Linked DNA regions of Homo sapiens: regions 1 and 3 are each linked to region 2. Evidence: fine-mapped QTL for protein levels in blood plasma. A gene starts in region 2. Each other region holds a variant in brackets. All regions are shown on one strand. Distances are between the middles of the regions.

What was found. PIP is the posterior inclusion probability: the model's chance that the variant is causal. The UK Biobank Pharma Proteomics Project read protein levels with antibody pairs (Olink). The fine-mapping took linkage between variants from a reference panel, not from the people measured, so its PIPs are less certain.
Region 1: its variant is fine-mapped to the plasma level of the VNN1 protein (UK Biobank, PIP 0.95).
Region 3: its variant is fine-mapped to the plasma level of the VNN1 protein (UK Biobank, PIP above 0.99). The variant lies in the coding sequence of VNN1. If it changes the protein, the assay may bind it differently, which can mimic a change of level.

What each region holds. Positions count from the first base shown.
Region 1 is chr6:132,734,509-132,742,695 of GRCh38, reverse strand. It overlaps the pseudogene VNN3P. Among named protein-coding and RNA genes, the nearest start is that of VNN2, 19 kb to the left of the region's middle. The variant A/G (reference allele first, on the strand shown) is at 3,942.
Region 2 is chr6:132,708,988-132,717,174 of GRCh38, reverse strand. It overlaps VNN1 (vanin 1), which reads left to right and starts at 3,120. Exons shown (of 7, transcript NM_004666.3): 1 at 3,120-3,349; 2 at 5,336-5,466. The coding sequence starts at 3,140.
Region 3 is chr6:132,688,146-132,696,332 of GRCh38, reverse strand. It overlaps VNN1 (vanin 1), which reads left to right. Exons shown (of 7, transcript NM_004666.3): 3 at 2,151-2,343; 4 at 3,018-3,309; 5 at 3,749-4,110. Among named protein-coding and RNA genes, the nearest start is that of VNN1, 22 kb to the left of the region's middle. The variant C/T (reference allele first, on the strand shown) is at 3,241.

The DNA of each region.
Region 1 (8,187 bases), 26 kb before region 2:
AGATGTTGATTGAAAATCAACAGCTGACGTTAAACAAACTGGTTTGAGTAAGATACAAGCAAGGAGCTCCTTTCACAGAAAGGGACAGTTCTGATTCAAGCTTGGAGCTCTCAGCTGTACCTCAGTTTGTTAAAAATAAAAACAAAAAACGAAAGCACCAAGTGCCAAGGAAATTAAAGAGCACTTAATGCTCTACTGTAAAATTGCCTGCACCACATTTTAACCCATCTCCACCGTGGTTTCTCACATACATTTTATTTTATCAAACAACCCAAGCATAGTTTCATTTGGCCTTTATATTTCTTTGATAACTATCTTTCATCCCATTTTATTTTATTTTTACTTATTTATTTATTTATTTTTTGAGATAGAGTCTCGCTCTGTTGCCCAGGCCGGAGTGCAGTGGTGCGATCTCGGCTCACTTCAAGCTCCGCCTCCCAGGTTCACGCCATTCTCCTGCCTCAGCCTCCTGAGTAGCTGGGACTACAGGCGCCCGCCACCACGCCTGGCTAATTTTTGTATTTTTAGTAGAGACGGGGTTTCACCATGTTAGCCAGGATGGTCTCGAACTCCTGACCTCATGATCCGCCCACCTCGGCCTCCCAAAGTGCTGGAATTACAGGCGTGAGCCACCGCGCCCGGCCTCATCCCATTCTAAAATTTCATGTTAGTTCTTGAGTCCCTTGTGGTTCTGGAGATAGTAAACAAAGCTCTTATTTTCTCCTATTTGGCTTTCATTAGGCTTTTTTCCTGAAATGCTCTTTTACAACTTCCTGGTTACAGCCCCCTGTATTACAAAGTCACATGCTCAGCAGCAGCCTTCTCTCAGGGCTCACTACCTAGCCTTCCTTCATTCATTCAGGAAGCATTGATCACTTACTATATCCCAAGCACTAAGTACTGAGACAGTGGTCTATGCATTCTCTTTGCTCCCTTTGCCACTCTGTGACATTGCCCCCTTTGATATGATCTATTTCCATAATTTCTATGATATGCTCACAACCTGCTTTGCAACTACACTGCCCCTACTTTCTACTTTCTTTGCATTTTGACCTGTCCTCATAGTGTTGGCTCATTGCTCTGTACAGGTGATTTCTGTCAGCATTCTTTCTGTTTTGGCCTCTTTCCTAAATTCTTTTTACATTTCTAACTCCATTCTGACCATCATTCCAAGATAGTCCATGGGTGATAATGTTCTAAAAGATATCTGAGGCTGGATGCCTGCTTAGGTCAATATGGTTATTATACCCACACCCACACTCACATGCTTACACTGAGCCACACGCAGCTACTTCCAATGAAAGCATTCCTGAGAAGACATTTGGACAAAGAAACAGGGACAACTGTGAAGAGGATTTCTTGAGTATGTAAATAAGACAGAAAGTACTTGGAATGGGAAAGAAAACATGCCTGTAATCCTGGTACTTTGGGAAGCTGAGGAAGGAGGATTGCTTGAGCTCAGGAGTTCAAGACCAGCCTGAGCAACATGGTAAAACCCTGTCTGTACCAAAAATACAAAAAGCCAGCCAGGTGTGGTGGTGTGTGTCTGTGTTCTCAGCTACTCGGGAGGCTGAAGTGGGAGGATCACTTGAGCCTCTGAGGTCAAGACTGCAGTGAGCTGTGATCACGCCGCTACACTCCAGCCTGGACAAAAGAGCAAGATCTTGTGTCCAAAAAAAAAAAAAAAAATCAACGATTTATTTGAGAATTTCTAGACCACGTGAAGCTAAGTCAAAGGAGAAAAATAATGAGAGTGAACTGACTAATTTCAATTTACCTGTCTTCAAGAATTCTGTGACATCTTATATTGTTTGAATATGGATTGAACAACCCTGCTAAAAGCTTTGATCAGTTATGTTATAAACCTTTGCTTCCCTGTTCTGTTTCATTTTGCATTTCAGAAATTAATTTTAAAAATACTGCACATCTACTACCATCTGATCTTTGACAAACTGGACAAAAACAAGCAATGGGGAAAGTATTCCCTATTTAATAAATGGTGCTGGGAAAACTGGCTAGCCACAGGCAGAAAATGGAAACTGGACCCCTTCCTTACACCTTATACAAAAATTAACTGAAGATGGATTAACGACTTAGATGTAAAACCCAAAACTATAAAAACCTTAGAAGAAAATCTAGACAATATCATTCAGGACATAGGCACAAACAAAGATTTCATGACAAAAACACCAAAAGCAATTGCAACAAAAGCAAAAAATGACAAGTGGAATCTAATTAAACTGAAGAGCTTCTGCACAGCAAATGAAACTATCATCAGAGTGAACAGACAAACTACAGAAAGGGAGAAAATTTTTGCAATCTATCCTTCTGACAAAGATTCAATATCCAAGAATCTACAAGGAACTTAAACAAAAATTTTGCAATCTATCCACCTGACAAAGGCCCAATATCCAGAATCTACAAGGAACTTCTTTTCCACAAGAAAAAAAACAAACAACCCCATTAAAAAGTGGGCAAAGGGCATGAACAGACACTTCTCGAAAGAAGACATTTATGCAGCTAACAATCACATAAAAAAAAAAAAAAACTTAGCTGGGCATGGTGGCTCATGCGTGTAATCCCAGCACTTTGGAGGCTGAGGCGTGCTAGTGCTATGATCAATACAAGGACCAGAAATGGATCAATTCTACCTTGGAAGACCAGAAGGATGTCACAGACAAGCAGAATAAGATAATCAGGGCATTCTCAATAGAGTTAGTCATGCATGCAAAGACATGGAAGTATGCTTCAAGCAGTGTTTAATGTATTACGGAGGAAGAGGATGCAAGGAGGAAGGATAAGGACAGACGATGTAAAAAATAAGACTAGAGAGATAGTCCAGAGTCAGTGTTGAAACACAAATGAAGTCTAGACTTTATCCAGAAGCTGAGAGAAAGACACATTGAAGAGTTTTAGAGTCAAGTAGCCATGAGGGACTAAACAGTTTAAAAACTAGATAAATTTGATGGCTTTTTGAAGGATGGAGTGGAGAAAGAAGTTCTAAAGGCAGAGTGGCCAGGAAGGAGCCAGTTGCAGCAGTCCCCTCAGGGTAGTGGAGACAGTACAGGGACATGCTTGAGGAACAGCAAAGAAGTCAATGCAACTGGAGCCGAGTGAACATGGGAAAAGTAGTAGGAATTGTTAGAAGTGACAGCTTATAGTGGTTTTTTTAGGCATTGTAAGAACTTGGCCTTTTACTCTGAGTAAAATCGAATGCCACTGATAGGTTTTTTTGTTTGTTTATTTGTTTGTTTGTTTTTTGAGATGGAGTTTCACTCTTGTTGCCCAGGCTGGAGTGCAATGGTGCAATCTTGGCTCACTGCAACCTCTGTCTCCCGGGTTCAAGTGATTCTCCTGCCTCAGCCTCCTGAGTAGCTGGGATTACAGGTGCATGCCACTGTGCTCAGCCAATTTTGTATTTTTAGTAGAGACGGGGTTTCTCCATGTTGGTCAGGCTGGTCTCAAACTCCTGACCTCAGGTGATCTGACCGCCTTGGCTTCCCAAAGTGCTGGGATTACAGGTGTGAGTCACTGCACCCAGGCCATTGATAGGTTTTGAGCAGAGGAATGATATGATTAGTCTTATATTTTGATAGAATGGCTCTGATTGTTGTTGTGCAAAAGTAGAAGTAGTGGTACAAAAACCAGGTGCAAGGGTTTGGGAATAATCCAGACTAGTGATAATGACGGCTTGGACCACAGTTGGTGTAGTAAAAGACCACTTGCTTGAACGTGTGTAGAGTGAGAGAGACAGAAAGAAGTAAGGGTGACTCCAAGGGTTTTGGCCGGAACAAAAGGGAGATGAGAGAAGCCGTTAATTGAGATCTGAAAGACTGCTGGTGAAAGAGCATCAGGAGCAGAAGGTCAGGAGCTCAGTTTTGTTCATGTTGATCAGATAAGCCTTCATACAGTCAAGTGGAGATTTTGAGTAGACTGTTGCC[A/G]GATATAAGAGTCTAGAGTTCTCAAGAGAGGTTTGAGGTAGATATATAAATCTGTGAGTCACTAATATTAAATATATAGATGGTATTTAAAGAGATGAAATGGATGTAATCACCTAGGAAGTGAGTGTAGATAGGAACAGAAGACTTCCAAAGGTTGGGCTCCAGGGTGCACCAGTGTTGCCAAGTCAGGGATGATGAGTAGAAACCAGAAGAAAAAGTCCAAAGAAACAAAACAAAGTAAACAAATACAAAAACTAAGAAGAAAGAAAGAGGAAAACTAAAAGGGTGTGAAGAAGAAAGTACATTAAGAATGGGATAATGGCAGCTTTGTCAAGTACTACCAAGACATTGAGTAAGATGACATTGAGAATTGACCATCAGACTTAGTAATAGGGAGATTAATGGGAACTGGACAAGGCAGTGAAGTCATGGGGGTAAAATCCTGTCCATTGGGAGGACAGGAATTGAGGCAAGGAGTACATACCATCGTGGAAAGGAATTTTGTTATAAAATAAAGCTGAGAAATGGAGCAGGAATTGGAAGGGGATGTCAGATCAAAAGGCTTTTTTTTTTAAGATAGAAAATGTTACAGGATAGTTGTAGAATATATAATAGGATATTTGTGTTTTCTTTATTGTATCCAATAGAGAAAGAAAAATTGATGATAAACAGTAATGGGGCTGGGCACGGTGGCTCATGCCTATAATCCCAGCACTTTGGGAGGCCGAGGTGGGTGGATCACTTGAGGTCAGGAGTTCTACACTAGACTGGCTAACATGGTGAAACCCTGTTTCTACTGAAAATACAAAAATCAGCCAGGCATGGTGATGTGCGCCTGAAAGCCCAGCTACTCGGGAGGCTGAGGGAGGAGAATTGCTTGAACCTGGGAGACGGAGGTTGCAGTGAGCCAAGATTGGGCCACTGCACTCCAGCCTGGGTGATGGAGCAAGATTCCATCTCAAAAAAAAAAAAAAAAAGGCCGAGCATTGGTGGTTCACGCCTATAATCCCAGCACTTTGAGAGGCCGAGGTGAGCAGATCACTTGAGGCCAGGAGTTTGAGACCACCCTGGCCAACATGATAAAACTCCATCTCTGCTAAAAATACAAAAATTAGCCAGGTGTGGGGGGCAGATGCCTGTAATCCCAGATACTTGGGAGGCTGAGGCAGGAGGATCTTTTGAACCTGGGAAGTGGAGGTTGCAGTGAGCCAAGATTATACCACTACACTCCAGCCTGGGTGGCAGAGTGAGACCCTGTCTCAAAAACAAACAAACAAAAAAATAAACAAAGTAAGAGAGAAGAACTTCTAGAGCAATGTCCTTGGGATCCAGTGCTCAAAGATAGGGGCTAGACTTAAGTAGGGTCAAGAGGAGTCATTTACAGTAAGGATGGGGGGAGGCAGAATTTACAGGTACAAATGGCTGGCAGGTGGGTTGATACTTGGTGGGAGCTTGTGGAAAGGAGTTCTTTTGAGTTGGATAAATAGGCCTGAAGTTCAGAACGGAAGTTTGAGCTAAAGATAGAGACACAGTCATTATCCTTTTGTAGAAGATAGTTGAAGGTATGAAGTAGAAAAAAACCTGGGGCCAGGGGAGAGGGTAGAGTAAGGGACTGAAAGACAGTGAACAACAATGTGGCTACTGGCCATAAGTGCATTAAGAGTTTAGAGAAGGGAATAGCAACAAGACTGGAGAGGCAATGGATTTGAGCTCGAAAGGCAGGATTTGGTCAGAATCATTCCAGGATCAGAGCAACAGTGATCATGTTACAATAAGAAGAGTACTTTTAGCTAAGAACACAAAATATAAAATGGAACCAAGAGAAAGAAGGCTCTTACTGTCTGCTTTGATTCAATATATGCATGGGAAGTATCTTAATTAATGACAGCAATGGTCAAGGGAACTCTAATGGATTACAGTATTGAGGGTTAGGGTGGGAGGAGTGGGATCAGAGAGGCTGATGGAGAGCCTGAAAGAATTCTTATTTATGGGGTCAGGAACTTGATAAGGAGAATGGAGAGGAGGTTTTACAATGAGTTTAGAAATAAAGATTTGGGGAAAGCCAGTAAACTCTTAGATATTTTATTACAGCACCTCTCCTTTAAGATGTGTCCCTTACATATTTAAAAGAAGAATTATATTTATTGTAATACAAAACTTCTGACTCTAAACTTCTTAATCCTACAATAATGCCAGACTGTCATAAGGATTATGTACCAATACAGTGTTTCAAATAACTCATAGCTGCACGCCTTATACACCTAGGAAGCAAAGACATTACTAACAACATTGGGTAATCAAATATTTAACTCAAGTTTCTATTGATTTCAACACACAAAAAAAGCTGGTACATTTCCTGGAACTAGGGGCTGGGAGAATGAAGGGGAATTCCCATATGTTTCCTTTTGATTCTATTCAGAAAGTCAGGTGAACCAAGAAAAGAGTTAGAATTTCAACTTGAAATATGAAAATTATTTTCTTCTCATCCCAGATCAATCCATCTGTTTTACATAGTTTCCCTCTTCTCCTCAGAAATTTTTTTGGAAAAGAACTTATGTCTGATGTCTGATGAAAACAATTTATGTCAGACATAAACTCAGAATTTAGGGCTGAATTTATGTTCATATGTCCTTATTTCCTGAAATGGTATCAGGGCATAAGGACATATGGAAACACTGTGGGGTATCTGGGAGCAGAAATATTTGGATAATGGAAAAGTTTATTGAAACCAAGGGACTTTGAATTATAGAAACAAACCAAACCCAAAATAGACACAAATCTCCATAACTTACAATTTTCCTTAGATCTTAGAAAGAATCTCAAGAGGGAGAAGCAGTGTTAATTGTTCTAGAATCAGAGATTTAAACCTTAAAAAAAATTCTACATTTTAAATTAACTGATATTCAAACAAGGAGATTCAATCCAAAATTGGGCGAGGGAAGTGAATTTAACTAATCAAAAAACATTTACAGAGCTTAGCACAGTATAAAATTCTATAGAAGCAGCAGAGAATTATAATGTGACCCTGCCCTTAAGGGACTTATAAGGATGATATGTTTAAAAAATAAAAGAATTAAAGGAGAACTTAACACTTTTTGAATTATTGATTAGTCTTCATATGGAAGCGGGTTTAAACTGTAGAAGACAGGTAAAGTAAATTGCATCTCAATAACAAGAATGTTCTTAAAATTGGCAATGTTCAAAGGTGGAATAGACTGGCCCATCAGGTAGTAGATTCCGTCATTCAACATTCATTCATATATTGAGCTTTCACCATCTGTCACACATGTGCTGGGGTGATGAGGTTCAACAGTGAGCAGGACACTTCCCTTACCCTCCAGGGGCCACATCCCAGGATACATCATCTCTGTCTAGATGTTTATTGGACATGGATGTTCTGAAAGAAAACAGCAAGTTTCTTTTTAATCTCTTTAAGAAGACAAAACATACATATATAATATTAAGTATTGGTATAATATTTAAATTAAAGGTCAAGACAACAGCAAGGAGTGAGAGACATTCAGCAGCACAGAAAAAAATGCTATAGGAGTTCAGAAATATCACTTAGGACTGGAGTGGATTTGGGAGGACTCTAGGGGGAGCTGGAACTTAGACGGATGGAGAACAAGGGCTTTTCAAATAGAAATGGCCATACAAATATGTAAGTAGAGTGCTCAACAAATTGTTGCTATGATGACTACCTTCCAATATTGGCCCTATTAATAGAAATGTTGGCTTACCAGGAAAATTTTTTTTTATTAGAAAAGACTTCAACTGCCAGTGTGTTTTGGACTGGGGTGAATTCATCTGGTTGGCTCAATCTTTTAGTGTTGACTTGACTCTGAACAATGTCAACAACTGCACTGTACACTTGAATCAATCCAATTACGTCCTGGCTGTCAGTTTTCTTGCACAACATCCTTTCTCAATGCTGTGTTGTGTAATATATGTGCAAGAAAATATAAACAGCTGATTGCCAGGAGGGATTTAATGTAAAGTTTTTCCAGTGAAACAAAACGTAAGAATCTGAGTTTGTTTTTCAAAGATCACTAAATTTTAGTTATGATTATATCACATTTTCCAAAATGTGTGGCAGTTTTTGCCCTCCTTGCTCTGAGTGTTGGTGCACTGGACACTTTTATTGCTGCAGTATATGAGCATGCGGTGATATTACCAAACAGAACAGAAACACCTGTTTCAAAAGAAGAAGCTTTGCTCCTGATGAACAAGAACATAGATGTTTTGG
Region 2 (8,187 bases):
TTTGAGACGGAGTCTCACTCTATCACCAAGCTGGAGTGCAATGGCGCAATCTCGGCTCGAGGCAACCTCCGCCTCCCGGGTTCAAGCAATTTTCCTGCTTCAGCCTCCCGAGTATCTGGATTATAGGCGCCCCCGCCCCCCACACTGCTCCCTTCCATGCCCAGCTAATTTTTGTATTTTTAGTAGAGACAGGGTTTCTCCATGTTGGTCAGGCTCATCTCAAACTCCTGACCTTTGGTGATCCTCCCGTCTCGGCCTCACAAAGTGCTGGGATTATAGGCATGAGCCACCGCGCCTGGCCGAACTGCATTATTTCATCTGAAGATTTGCTCTCAGCTAGTACATGCTAAGTAGGCCAGAAAGGGTAGATTCATGTGGCAGTGACATGCTGGAGGAGGGACAAGGTTATTGGTCCTATGATTTAGTCTCAGTCTTTTAGTGAGCCTGTACCCCTGGGTTTATGAACTTCACTTGGCTTTTTTCTTCTGCCATTAGTTGGCATAAAAACAAGCTAGAGATGAGATTTTCCCTTTCCCCAAGTTAAAGATTAGAGTGGCTGGGGTTGGCATTTTTCCTTCCCCTAGGTAGGTTAGGCTCTGGTAAAATACTTTACTTTGAGGGCAGGCTTTTGTTAAGAAGAACAGACCAGAACTCTCAAGGTTGTCCACCCTGAGCCTCCACCAATTCGTCAATTACAGTTCAAGTGAACCCACGGTACTGGCGCCAGCCGCAGAGGACTCTGCTCGCAGTACACTCTTAACCTCTGTATCTGCCTATCTCTGCAGTTCTGAGGACCGCAGTTTATCCTGTGATCTCAATTCTCTGATGCATCCTAGAAAAGTTGTCGATTTTCATTTGTTTAGCTTTTTTCTTGGTGTGAGCATGGGAAAAATGACTGCCAAGCTCTTTATGAGTTGGACTAGAAACTCCACGGGAGGTTTAATATTTTTAATCTAAGAAGGTCAAGAAGTAATTTTTTAACCTCTTGCCAACTCATCTCAGTTTTAACTTTTATTTCAGTGCTTCCTTTTACAAATTGTTACATAATAATGACATCTTTTTGTGAAATATGTGGTATTCCCACCCACCTGGGCATGGAAAGGCCCTAAGAGGTCAGCAAGCAGTTAGAGAAGCTGGTGTTTACCGGAAACTCAGGAGAACCAGCCAACCACAACCCCTGGGTTACCTTGGCAATTGCAGAATAAATGCATTATAGTTACTAAAGTAAAAAATTAGATATGCCTGTTTGCAGATTGAACTATAAAAATACCATTCAAAGACAAATAGATCTAAAAATAAAATGGAAAAACATAAACACTAATTCTGTAAATATTATACTTAATGCACAACTGAAACAAAATTTGCCAGCTTACTCAATATCAAAATCTATGAACAGTTTTTCTATTTTATATAATTTCCCTCTCCTCTCTCTGGATCTCGCTCCCCAGCTCATTTTTTCTTTTTTTTGCTCTGATTCTTTATACACCTCTGTTGCCTCTGTGATAAGCAGCTTCAAAGATGGTTCCTAATGCTTTATTGGATAGAATACAACAAAAGCGATGAGGTGTTGCTTCCCCAATTACATTACGAAGCATCCGTGGCTTCCATCTCCAGTGGGTTCACTTGCTGTCTGGCTCTAAGGGAATCCAGATACCATAATGCGGGCTGCCCTATGGTGAGGTTTGCATCACTAGGAACTCATGTCTCTGGGCAACAACCAATGAGGTCTTGATCCCTGCCGTCAGCCACATGAGGGAGCTTGGAGCTCGGAAGTGAATCCTCCTGGAGTCAAGCCTTGATATAGCTAGCCCTGGCAGCTGCTTGACTGCAGCCTTGTGAAAGAGACCTTGGGCCAGAGGCACCAGCTAAACTGCCCCTGGATTCCTGACCCAGAGAAAGTGGGAGATGATGTATTTTTGCTTTTTGAAGCTGCTGAATTTGGGGATAATTTGTTATATAGCAATAGAAAATGAGTAACTCTTTTGTATTCCTCTTTGTCCTGGCTTCCCCATTTTGAGGAAAATAAAGTAAATCAAAGTGTAGAGCTGAAATATTCACATGAAAATAATAATAAAGTTTTAAAATTATTTGAATGTCTTGTGTTGACATTCCAAAATATATGAATTCCAAAAATTTATATGTTGAAGTCCTAACTGTCAGTATCTTAGAATGTAACTTTTTTGGAAAAGGGGTCATTTCAGATCTAATTAGTTAAGATGAAGTTATACTGGAGTACAGTGGGCACTAAATCGAATTGGTCCTATGATTGAGTCTCAGTCTTTCAGTGAGCCTGTACCCCTGGGTTTATGACCTTCAGTTGGCTTTTTTCTTCTGCCCTTATTTGGCATAAAAACAAAGCAGGTGGATCACCTGAGGTCAGCAATTTGAGACCAGCCTGCCCAACACGGCGAAACCCTATCTCTACTAAAAATACAAAAAATTAGCCTGGCGTGGTGGCGGGCGCCTGTAATCCCAGCTACTTGGGAGGCTGAGGCAGGAGAATCACATGAACCCGAGAGGCGGAGGTTGCAGTGAGCCGAGATTTCGCCACTGCACTCTAGCCTGGGTGACAAGAGTGAAACTCCATCTCAAACAACAACAACAATAAACAAACAACAACGATGACAAAAAAAGCTAGAGCTGGGATTTTCCCTTTCCCTGTGTTAAAGATTAGAGTGGTGTCCTCACAAAAAGGGAAAACTTGGATACAGGCACACACATGGGGAGAATAGCATATGAAGAGACACAGGGAGAAGGCAGCCATCTATGGGTCAAGGAGAGAGGCCTGGAACACATCTTTCCTTCACCGCCCTCAGGAGGAACCAACTCTGCTGACACCTTCATCTGGGACTCCCACCCTCCAGAACTGCAAAGCAATAAATTTTTTATTTTTTACACCACCCAGTTTATTGTATTTTGTTAGGCAGCCCTAGCGAACTAATGTACATAGAGTTCTTGAGTTAATCTTCACAAATTACTGCAATAAGGTAGGGTCTTTTGTTATGTAACAATGCTATGAAATCATAGCGTTTTCTTAATTAACTTCCGTAGTTTAAGGTACTAAGTTCTGGACACCACGTGTCTTCTTTCTATAAATACCAGGACATGCTCTGTTTTTCAGCACTCATTGGACTTCAGCATGACTACTCAGTTGCCAGCTTACGTGGCAATTTTGCTTTTCTATGTCTCAAGAGCCAGCTGCCAGGACACTTTCACTGCAGCTGTTTATGAGCATGCAGCGATATTGCCCAATGCCACCCTAACACCAGTGTCTCGTGAGGAGGCTTTGGCATTAATGAATCGGAATCTGGACATTTTGGAAGGAGCGATCACATCAGCAGCAGATCAGGTACCATCTCTACCATCTCTCCAGTGTACTGGATTCTATGAGAAAGGAGGGGGTCCTAGGAGACAGGGCCACTGTCAGGGTCAGTTACACTTTTAGATGATATATGTATCAGAGTAGCCAAGAACCTTTATTTTACAGTTAGAATTCTACTTTCCTCTCAAAATTAGAGCAAGGACTTCCCTAAAAGTAAGAACAAAGTTAAGAAAAGAACAATTTGCTCATTATCAAGAAGCAGCAGACCTTTGAGGAACTGGCCATAAATTCAACATCTTTGTTCCCCTTTTCTGGTACAGATGGAGGATGGAGGATAAATGGGTCAGGGACTAGGTGCTATTTTCAGAGTATTAGTGGCCTTCATGTACTCATGTGCTATTAAGGCTTTGCAGGTTTTCGAATAAATTTATAATCTGAAAACAAATTTAAGTTTTCAATTCCTTGCCAGCATGCATTATATACTTCACACTTCATTCTAATTACAAGATAAAAGTATATGTAATGCATTGTGAGTCCTTAAGTTTAGTGAAGGTTTCAGTTTGAAGTTAATCATACAGTATAAATTGTGGTTTACACAAATATTATTTTAAAAGCTATTGATCGATTAGGTGTAGACCAGGAATACATGAAGTGTGATAAAAGTCATGGATAAATGTGTATTACATATATCTATAAATATATATTCTTTTGTGTTGTTGAGTTAAGGTCTCACTCTGTCACCCAGGATGGAGTATAGTGGTGTGATCACGTCTCACTGCAGCCTTGACTTCCCGGGCTCAGGTGATTCTCCCACTACAGTCTCCAGAGTAGCTGGGACCACAGATGCATGCCACCGTGCCCAGCTAAGTTTTGTATTTTTTGTAGAGATGGGATTTTGCCATGTTGCCCACGCTGTACTTGAACTCCTGACCTCAGGTGATCCACCTGCCTTGGGCTCCCAAAGTGCTGGGATTACAGGCATGAGCTACCGTGACTGCCCTATATTCTTATATATACTAATATTTAAAAGGTTATCAGGAGTTCTGATGTTCTTTTTCATCCTTAGTCCAACTATTTCCTTGAAGGTCACAGAGCTTTTTAAGGTGACTCTCTAATTGGAAGGTGCCCAGGTTAGCTCAGGCAGTACTTGTAGGCATGGGACAGTTCAAGTAACCAGTTTGTGGCTCCTCTTTTTCTGAGAAGCAGGAATCATGTTTGCAGGGGAAAGCTAGGGCAGAGGAGGAAATAAACAGAATATTTAAGTTATTAATCAGTCTTGACACAGGCACAGTCATCAGCGAAAGTTCAAGGAGAGGCTTGGTTCCAGGATAAGCTAGGTTTATAGTTAACGACTGCCATAGGAAACAACAATGGCAGGATTAGAAAATTAAAATGCTTGACTAAGCCAGGTGCGGTGGCTCATGTCTGTAATTCCAACACTTTGGGAGGCTGAAGCAGGCGGATCACCTGAGGTTGGGAGTTCAAGACCATCCTGACCAATATGGAGAAACCCCATCTCTACTAAAAATACAAAAATTAGCCAGGCGTGGTGGCAGATGCCTGTGATCCTAGCTACTTATGAGGCTGAGGCGGGAGAATCGCTTGAACCCGGGAGGTGGAGATTGTGGTAAGCCGAGATCTAGCCATTGCACTCCAGCCTGGGCAGCAGAGCGAAACTCCATCTGAAAAAAAAAAAAAAGAGAGAAAAAAAAATGCTTGACTAGAAGCCCAAACCTCACCATTATGTAACATATCCATGCAACAAACCTGCATTTGTACCCTTTGAATCTAAAATTAGAAATAAAGAAAAGAAAAGAAAAAGAAAAAGAAGTGACAGTGCACTGAAAAAAAAGGAAATTAAAATGCTTTGGAAAAGAAAATAAATTATAAAAATATAGAAAACAAAATAAGATTTAAGGGGTGTGGGGGAAGCCCAAATAGTTGTTACTCAGCCACTCAGCTCCTCAGCTCCTCTTGCAGGCCCCCCTTTGGATTAAGTTGCATTTTTAACAGGGTGCGCATATTATTGTGACTCCAGAAGATGCTATTTATGGCTGGAACTTCAACAGGGACTCTCTCTACCCATATTTGGAGGACATCCCAGACCCTGAAGTAAACTGGATCCCCTGTAATAATCGTAACAGGTAAAGAAACAACTTGTGAAAAATTCACTAGTAAACATCAACTTGATTTACCTGGGAAAACTTTGTTGATGATCATTGCATAGATCCATGATCAATTCTTAAGTTTCAGTATAGCTTATTTTTCATCTACTATGGGTATATTTACTGGGAGAGCAAATATGAATTATGAAGTCACAGAAGTCAGAGCTAGAAAGTAGCTTAGAAATCATCACATTCAGTGTGAACATCTCTGGTCTCTGACTCCTCACCAGTGAACAGAAAAATATTTCCCTGTGTAGGTCTGTGATTTGAAAACTATATGAGTAAATGGCAAAAGAGAGTCACATCAGTTTAAGATTAATAGTTTTCCTTTCTCATTGCTAAGATAGCTGATGAGGTTAATGTAGTAAAGTCCTTAAAGTGTAAGCTGATTGTAATCTAAGAGGTGATATGGCAGGATTTTAAGTGGTTTAAGTCAGGTCTCGGCTACAGAGATATTAAGTGTGGTGAAAGCAGCACTATTAATTTTAATGTAAGGAAACCAATATCTTATACACCTAAGAAAATCATGTCGATTCACATACTTCTTTCTGAATACACATGGCTAAAATTATTTTAGGAATTCCTCTTTTGGAACTATTCTCAAAACCGCACAACGCCAGTTAGAATGGTGATCATTAAAAAGTCAGGAAACAACAGATGCTGGAGAGGATGTGGAGAAAGGGGAACTCTTTTACACTGTTGGTGGGAGTATAAATTAGTTCAACCATTGTGGAAGACAGTGTGGTGATTCCTCAAGGATCTAGAACCAGAAATACCATTTGACCCACCAATCCCATTACTGGGTATATACCAAAGGATCATAAATCATTTTACTATAAAGACACATGCATGCATATGTTTATTGCAGCACTGTTCACAATAGCAAAGACTTGGAACCAACCCAAATACCCATCAATGGTAGACTGGATAAAGAAAATGTGGCACATATATACCACAGAACACTACACAGCTGTAAAAAAGGATAAGTTCATGTCCTTTGCAGGGACATGGATAAAGCTGGAAACCATCATTCTCAGCAAACTAACACAGGAACAGAAAACAAAACACTGCATGTTCTCGCTCATAAGTGGGAGTTGAACAACGAGAATACATGGACACAAGGAGGGGAACATCACACACCGGGGCCTGTCGGGGAGTCGGGGGCTAAGGGAGGGATGGCATTAGGAGAAATACCTAATGTAGATGATGGGTTGGTGGGTGCAGCAAACCACCATGGCACGTGTATACCTATGTAACAAGCCTGCATGTTCTGCACATGTATCTCAGAACTTAAAGTATAATAATAATAATACTAAAATTAAAAATCCCACAGAAACTGGCTGGGTGTGGTGACTCATGCCTGTAATTCCAACACTTTGGGAGGCCGAGGCAGGAGGATCACCTGAGGTCAGGAGTTTGAGACCAGCCTGGCCAATTTGGCAAAACCCCATCTCTACTAAAAATACAAAAATTAGTGGGGCGTGGTGGTGGGCACCTATAATCCCAGCTACTTGGAAGGCTGAGGCAGGGAGAACTGCTTGAACCTGGGAGGCAGAGGTTGCAGTGAGCCAAGAGAGTGACACTGCACTCCAGCCTGGGTAACAGAGCTAGACTCTGTCTCAAAAACAAACAAACAAACAAACCCACAAAAACTACTTACAGAGACACCTTGATTTTGACAAGGTGGATTTTGATAAATTCCAGTGTTATTTATCATAATCATTTACTCTATTCTTATTTAATTGTACCATAATTATTTCTTATTTAATCATGTCATATGTCAGTGCTTCAGTTTCTAAAAGGCAAGCACTCTATTATCACTTCCACTATGAATTGAATTGACTTATTTCTGAATGGCCTTTCCCTAGAACCTCATCTCCAAGGGCCTCCTGAACATCCCCACAAGGATGTCCCATTCACTTCATTTCAAGGAACACGGTTGCCCATTTATGTTTTCCATCAACTAATGATGTCTGAATGTCTTGCCTTAATTCTCTCTGTCTCTCTCTCTCTTTTTTTTTTTTTTGAGAGAGAGACTCTGTGTCGCCCAAGCTGGAGTGCAGTGGCGTGATCTCAGCTCACTGCAACCTCTATCCCCCAGGTCCAAGCAATTCTTGTGCCTCAGCCTCCCGAAGATGACAAGTGTGAGCCACAACACCCAGCTAGTTTTTTGTATTTTCAGTAGAGATGGGTTTCACCATGTTGGCCAGGCTGGTCTTGAACTCCTGGCCTCAAGTGATCCACCTGCTCGGCCTCCCAAAGTGCTGGGATTACAGGTATGAGTCATCACGCCCAGCTGCCTTAATTTATTAACTCTGCAAATTTTTTTTGAGTACCTATTATGTCTAAACATTGTTCTGGGCAATGAAGTGAACAAAACAGATTAAAAATTCCTGTCCCCTTGAAATTTATATTCTAGTGTGGGGAGGTAATAAATGTTTTAAAAAGATAATTATCTATCTATCTATCATCTATCTATCATCTATCTATTATCTATCTACCTATCTTTATATAGGTATCTTTCATCTGTCTACCTATCTATGATATGAGGTGGAAGTAAATGTTATGGAAAAAATAAAGTGGGGAAGGTGAATAGGGTGGCAAGCGTGGGGCTGAAATTTTAAAAGGTCGTCTGAGGGCATCACAGTGAGATTTCAGCAAAGACCTGAAAGAAATGAGGCAATAGATCATGTGAGTATC
Region 3 (8,187 bases), 21 kb after region 2:
CCTAAGGCTCTGTTCAATTTTCTTTAATATTTTTTGTTGTTGTTCTGCAGACTCAATAATTTCAATGGTCCTGTCTTCCAGTTCACTGTTTCTTTTTTCTACATGCCTGAATTGGTCTTCGAATCCTCCTATAAAATATTCATTTCAGTTATTGTAATTTTCAGCTCCAGATTCTTTTTAGGTTTTCTATCTTTTTATTGATATTTCTACTTTGTTTTGTTTTTTGATTTTCTCCACATCTTCCTTTATTTTCTTAAGCTTCTGTAAAACCATTGTTTTAAAGTCTGTGTTTAGTAGGTCTGTCATGTGGTCCTTTTCAGGGATGATTTTCGTTGGTTTATTTTTCCTTTCTTTTGAGTGAGTCATACTTTCCTGTTTCTTTGTATGATTTGTGATTTTTTTGGTTGATAACTAGACATTTGAATCTTATCACATGGTTACTCTGGGAATCAGATTCTCTGGGTTTGCTATGTTTGTTTGTTTGTTTGTTTTGTTGTTGTAGGATGTTTGTGTTGAGGATCAGCTTGAGATGTAAATTTAAGGTCTTCTTAGACCTTTTATGAGTCTGTACCTTTCCCTGGGCATGTATGGCGACTTTCTAAATTTCCCTGTATATTTAATTGCTTATTCCTTAAATGTCTCACTATCCAAAGGAGAAAAAGAGAAAATAAATAAATAAATAAGACACTGGTTCTTTAAATCTCCTGGAAGCCACTTCAGCCAGAAAGAGGGCCTGCAAAAATGGTGTGTCTGTATGTATACACAACAATAGCTGCTTGCCTTTGCATTTGTACCTCCATGATCAGAAGCAACAATTAGTGATCAGAATGCAGATCTCGTATATTTGAAAGACAAGGTCATTATTGTCCACCCTGCTCCCATAAGCTGCCTGCAAGCTGCTTTAGGAACACAGACATGGCAGCCTGTCACAGGGACAGGGGATGAGGAATTGGTAACCACTATTGAGCTAAGAGCTAAAATGGACTGAAATTAACTGTAAGTTACCTTCCAAGCATTCTTCTGGAAGTTGCAAGCACTAGAGCTCCAAAATAGTAATATTAGACAGATTCCAACAGTGCAATTGTTATCTAGGTGGGGAGAAAAATTCCCTGCTCTGCTATCTTCCCAGCATCCCTCTACCTCTAAATTTTTGTTAACTCATTCAAAAAAATTTTTTTTTGAGATGGAGTCTCACTCTTGTTGCCTAGGATGGAGTGCAATGGCATGATCTCAGCTCACCACAACCTCTGCCTCCCAAGATCAAGCAATTCTCCCACCTCAGCCTCTTGAGTAGCTGGGATTATAGGCGCACGCCACCAGGCCCAGCTAATTTTGTATTTTTAGTAGAGACGGGGTTTCTTCATGTTGGTCTGGCTGGTCTCGAACTCCTGACCTCAGCTGATCCACCCACCTCGGCCTCCCAAAATGTTGGGATTACAGGCATGAGCTACCACACCTGGCCCCCCAAAATTTGTTTTTTGAGACAGGGTTTTGCTCTGTTGCCCAGGTTGGAATGCAGTGGAACTCACTGTAGCCTCAAAATCCCAAGTTCAAGCAATCATCCCACCTCAGTCTCCCAAATATCTGAGACTACAGGCACACACCACTATGCCTGGCTATTTTTTTTTTTTTTCATTTTTTGTAGAGAGACAGTCTTGCTTTGTTGCCCAGGCTGGTCTCAAACTCCTGGGCTCAAGCAATCCTTCCTCCTTGGACTCCCAAAGTGCTGGAATTACAGGCATGAGCAACCACACCCACCCCAAGATATTTTTTAATGCCTCTCTTCTGTTAGACAAAATTTTAGTAAACGGGATATGTAAGTCATTGATCTATGATATCCACAGGATGCTGCAGACATTATAAGACAAACACGTAAGTGAAAATATGACTATAGATTACGATAAATGCTATGAAGAAAAAATACGTGGTCTGGAATCTTATCCTACAGTAGGTTCCTACAACCAATTTTACTCAAGCATGGGCTTCCTCTGAACTCCTTTCTTGTCTTAATACTTCTCTTCTAATTATTGTTATTTAGAATTTACTTTTGCATATATCAAATAATAGGTTTAGGCAACTATCATTCAGGATTTTGTTGAGAGTTAAGATTGATTTACAAAGATTTTTTTCCTCCAATAAACATGTATCAGATTTGGCCAGACCCCAGTACAAGAAAGACTCAGCTGCCTGGCCAAGAACAACTCTATCTATGTTGTGGCAAATATTGGGGACAAGAAGCCATGCGATACCAGTGATCCTCAGTGTCCCCCTGATGGCCGTTACCAATACAACACTGATGTGGTATTTGATTCTCAAGGAAAACTGGTGGCACGCTACCATAAGGTAAAATTAATTTGCAAATAATCCAATTAGTTAATGCCTAATGAAATAAAGTGGGCAAGGAGAAAAATATGTTATTGATAATGATAAGCACACTTTAGAAATCGAGTAGGGGCAAAGCATAGAAAGTAATGATAAAGCGTGGAAAGCTCCTATAAAGAGGCTTAAGGGGTTCCGTGTACATATAAGAACACAGGAGTGTGTTTTCAGGAGTGTGTAGCAGTCAGAAAGTGCCGCATGCATTATGTTGCCTAATGTTGCCTTTTGGACTTTGTCCTTTTAAAGGCATACCCTGGCAATGGGTCAAGGCTAGAATGAAAAACTGCTTACCACATAGACTCTGTCTTGAGGAGAATGGAACAAACAAAGTTCCTTGCCAAGGAAAACAGTTAAGTCTACTTGGCAAACAGAAGTAATCTATTTTATGTCTTATAAGATTCCAGTGGGTCTTTATAGATAAAGATACCCATGTACATATTTGTAATGTGGAGACTGAACTAAAGGCCCAGTTTAGCTAGAATGGCCTCTGATTCTCTAAAGCAAACTCATTTCCCATGAAAACACTGATCATAGATGAAATTGGCACTAAGATGTGAGCTTGTACTTTTTCCCACACTGTGATGTCCAGATCAACTTCCTAAAATAATTTTTTTCTCTTTATCTTCTGTTTATTGCAGCAAAACCTTTTCATGGGTGAAAATCAATTCAATGTACCCAAGGAGCCTGAGATTGTGACTTTCAATACCACCTTTGGAAGTTTTGGCATTTTCACATGCTTTGATATACTCTTCCATGATCCTGCTGTTACCTTGGTGAAAGATTTCCACGTGGACACCATAGTATTCCCAACAGCTTGGATGAATGTTTTGCCACATTTGTCAGCTGTTGAATTCCACTCAG[C/T]TTGGGCTATGGGCATGAGGGTCAATTTCCTTGCATCCAACATACATTACCCCTCAAAGAAAATGACAGGTAATGTGTGATCTTAAAGATATGCAGGCTGATGTAATCAGAAAAGAAAAGAAAAAAAAAACATGTTTTTCTAGCTAACGCATACTCCTTAATACAATGTTTTCCAGCTCTTAATTTTTGAACATCTAGCTGTTAATATGCTATAGAATCAATCTCAGTCTAAATTGTTTTGTAGATTTATTTGGTTTTATTTAACTTGATTTTTTTTTCAAAATATATGACTTCTTACATACAACTCTCCCTTCTTGGCTTCTTGGTTTCATACTTTAATTGATTTCCTCTCACTTCTCTGTCTTTATCAGCATGTTTTACTGAAATTAATAAAACATATAACTTAGAGAGAGTAAAATGTGAATATGAGGTTAAAATAGTAATAACAATTATGAAATCCCTTTTTACTTTCCAATTTCAAATGATGTTTTCAACTTATTACTTCCAGGAAGTGGCATCTATGCACCCAATTCTTCAAGAGCATTTCATTATGATATGAAGACAGAAGAGGGAAAACTCCTCCTCTCGCAACTGGATTCCCACCCATCCCATTCTGCAGTGGTGAACTGGACTTCCTATGCCAGCAGTATAGAAGCGCTCTCATCAGGAAACAAGGAATTTAAAGGCACTGTCTTTTTCGATGAATTCACTTTTGTGAAGCTCACAGGAGTTGCAGGAAATTATACAGTTTGTCAGAAAGATCTCTGCTGTCATTTAAGCTACAAAATGTCTGAGAACATACCAAATGAAGTGTACGCTCTAGGGGCATTTGACGGACTGCACACTGTGGAAGGGCGCTATTATCTACAGGTAATATTTTGATGTCAGAAGAGTTACTGGATAAAATAAAGACACTCAGTTAAATATACAGTTTAGATAAATAATGAATGATTTTTTAGTATAAGCATATCACACTTTTGGGGATTTATGTATGCTAAAAATTTTGTTGTTTATTTGAAATTCAACTTTAGCTGGGAAGCCTACAAATACAGGCTAAATTTATTTGCTAAATCTTTTTTTTTTTTTTTTGAGACAGAGTCTCACTCTGTAGCCCAAGCTGGAGTGCAGTGGTGCATCAGCTCACTGCAAGCTCTGCCTCCTCGGCCAAGCAATTCTCACGCCTCAGCCTCCCAAGTAGCTGGGACTACAGGCGAGTGCCACCATGCCTGGCTAATTTTTTTGTTGTTGTTGTATTTTAGTAGAGACAGAGTTTCACCATATTGGCCAGGGTGGTCTCAAACTCCCCGAGCTCAGGTGATCCGCCCACCTCAGCCTCCCAAAGTGTTGAGATTATAGGCATGAGCCACCGTGCCCTGCCTATTTGCTAAACCTTGAAACCTTAGATGTCAGTTCAATTTTAAGCTGATTGGGAAAAGGCAGGACATTTACTTGCAGTAGCAGTATTAAAAATAAATATTCAAATTACAGATCATTATAACAGGAGTTCATTGAAAACCCATTTTATTTCCTGCCTGAACAAATTAAGCCATTTTCCTTATATGTTCACAAATGCCTATCTTGCTTTATAAAGAGTTTGACACTAAGTATATCCTGGATATGAATGGGGTTGACCACCAAGATAGTTCAATGGAATGGTTTATTGCTGCAAAGATCCAATCTCTCATTGCTCGCAAGTGGCCTCCATGGTCCTCTCATTCTTCTCTTCTCTTCCTTGGTCTGGCCCCCATCTTATCTCACTTAACAGGGCTTCCTATTGACAGTCTGACAATCTCAGCTCCATCCAGTCAGTTCTCCATATTGTAGTTACAGAAATCACAAAAAGCTGTTTTTGATTATAATACTGTCTGGCTTAAAATTCTTCACTGACTTCTAATTGACAAATCAAATTTCTTAACATGAAAGACACACAAAGTCTAGATGTGTGGTCCCTTCCTATTCTCTATCCTCTAATCTCACTTCTACTTACAAATATCCTGGGCTTCTGCAATATTGAAATATTTTCCCATCTCCTATTTGCTAGCATATGCAGAACCTCAAGGTGTTTGCACAGATTGTTTGGTCCTTTATCCGTGGCGAGCCCCACCTACTAATCTTTCATAGCACTTTTCTGGTGTTATCGTCACCAAGAGGGGTTCCTGGATATTTCCCACAGAGCTACTCCTACCTCTCCAGATGAGTTAAGTACATCCTTTATGTGCTCCCAGGACACCCTATGCTTAGCTTTATCAAAGACATATTATGTCATAGTATTCACTTACTTATTTGAGACTGAGAACCCCTTGAGTGCTGAAATTATGCCAACTGCACAGTATTTTGTTTGCTCTATGATAACTACCCTAACAATACTTTTTCGTTTTAGCAAATGAAGGCCTACTATATGCCAGGTATTTATTTAGTGTTAATGATATGAAGATAAATAAGCATAGATCCTCCTCTTGAAGAATTCAGTCTTTAGTAATGGAGAAAGACATTTGAACAGATAATTTCAGCATAGGTTGGCATGTGATTGTCCGTAGAATGCACATTTTGCTGGAGGAGTACTAAAGAGCTCTACTTAGATTAATTTGGGAATGCAGGGAAGTTTCTGGAGCTGATGCTATTATCCAGGTGAAAAAGAGTAGGAGGGGATTCTTTGTGGTGTGAAGAGCATGAACAAGGGTGTGGATGCAGGCAGGAGCAGGGTCTGCAGGGAACAGCAACAGGTCAGTGCTACTAAGGCAACTGAGGCATGGCTTGCGAAGCTGGGTTTGGTGGGAAATAAGCCTGGAAGCAACATCCTGTCCTGCAGGATCTTACCTAGCACACTTAAGATTCAGCCTTTATTCTGTGGGTGATGGTCAGCTGGTGGAAGTGGTCCAGTGAAGGAATGATGTGGTCAGATCTACCTTTGAATATATCATTTTTACTACTCTGTAGATGATGGAGCAAAGACCCAAAAGACTAGATTATTAAAATAGTCTTATTAAGGGTCTGGACCAAGACTGTGTTTGTTGGAATAAAAGCAGGGCATGGAGTCTAGACATATTTAGAAAATGGAACTCAGTGGCCAATTTGATGTGGAACAGGAAAACGGAATGGAGAGTCCAGAATGTGGCAGATTTCTGGCAAGAATGGCTGGGTGGGTGAGATGCATCTGACAGATCAGGAGGCAAGAGAGGAGCAGACTCACTGACAGTGGGTAGAGGCTGAGTTCAGTTATAGATGTGCTGGTTTTGAAGTAGTTATGAGACATTCAGCTGGACCCAGCCAGTTGTCTGTTGAATACTTTGGTCTGATGCTTAAGGGAGATACTAGAATTAGAAATATTGTTTCAAAAATCAGCAAGATACAAGGGGCAATTAAGCAAACAACAGTGAATGATACGACAAAGGAGACTGTACTGACAGTAAAGAACTATTGACAAAGTAGAACCTTTGGGAGCTTCGGTATTTGGGGCAGGAAAGGACAGAGGACAAGAAACCTGCAAATACAATTAAGAAATAAAGGAAAATTTAAAAAGAGAACATCTGGTAGATGCCAAGGAAGTAGAGACTCTTGGAGGAAAGAAATCATGAGGTGTATTAACACAATACGTTGACCATTATTAGCATTTTTGAGTATAATTTTGGCAGAATTTTCTGAGCTCATAATGATAGGATGATGGGCAGATTATATTGGGTTGAAAAGTCAAAGGGAAGTGAATGCACTTTTTTCCCCAAGAAATCTTATCTGAGACAAGAAGAAGAGAAGCAAGACAATGGTTTAACAGAGACTCATGGTCAGGAGAAATGTGTGTGTATGTGTGTATGTGTGTGTGTGTGTTTCTCAACAAACGAGAGAGCCTTGATTGCCTTTGTAGGTCTAAGAGAAAGAGCTACAAAAGGAAAAAATACATAAAATATGAGAGGAATCAGGTCCAGTGCAGTGGCCTGTAATCCCAGCACTTTGGGAGGTCAAGGCGGGCAGATCATCTGAGATCAGGAGTTTGTGACCCCTGTCCAACATGGTGAAACCTGTCTCTACTAAAAATACAAAAATTAGCCAGGCATGGTGGCAGGCGCCTGCAATCCCAGCTACTTGGAAGGCTGAGACAGGAGAATTGCTTGATCCTGGGAGATAGAGGTTGCAGTGAGCTGAAATTGTGCCACTGCACTCCAGCCTAGGCAACAGAGTGAGACTCTGTCTCAAAATAAAATAAAATATACAAGGAATCATTACTCCTACTCAGTGTTCCAAGGTGCTGGAGGAAAGAGGGAAAAATAGTATCATGAACACAGGTACAAAATGTCCAACAACTGGAAATTAAATGAATCATATTGTAGAAGAACATTTATTGCCATAAAATTATTACCATATACCATATGTTATATTAACATATATAGCCTTATATATGTGACATTCATATGGTATTATATTGCTATATAAATTTTTAAAATTAAAATATAAATTGTGATGTATTATTTTTAAGTTAAAAAAAGTTGGTCACAAAACAAGAGAGTAATCTCTTAGCTCTTCTTCCCTCCTTTTCCTTCCTGCCTCCTCAATCTTTTCCTACCTTTTTACCTCCTCCAGAGTCTTGGCTCTACCTAAAGAGAGTTGTGGGAAGTTCTTTCTTAGTGTTGTGAGGTAGGTTAGCTTTGTCAAGTAAAACCAAGCTTTCTGTTTATCTTGCTAGACGGTGATATTTCATCTAAACGATTGGTACCAGATATGTTTTGGAATCTTCCTATTTAAAGATAATAATACATATTACTTGATATTACCAGCAGAGTCTGGGAAAATACCCAGAATCAAACATATTAATATATCTATTGGAAAACATGGGATTATTCACCTTAAATAGCTTGAATAAAAATGTTATAGCCTTATGTTAATTCAAGTTAGGTCTTAATGCCAATGTGCCAGTGGGTTACAAAAATCCTTTATTTTCAGAAGATTTTGGATTTT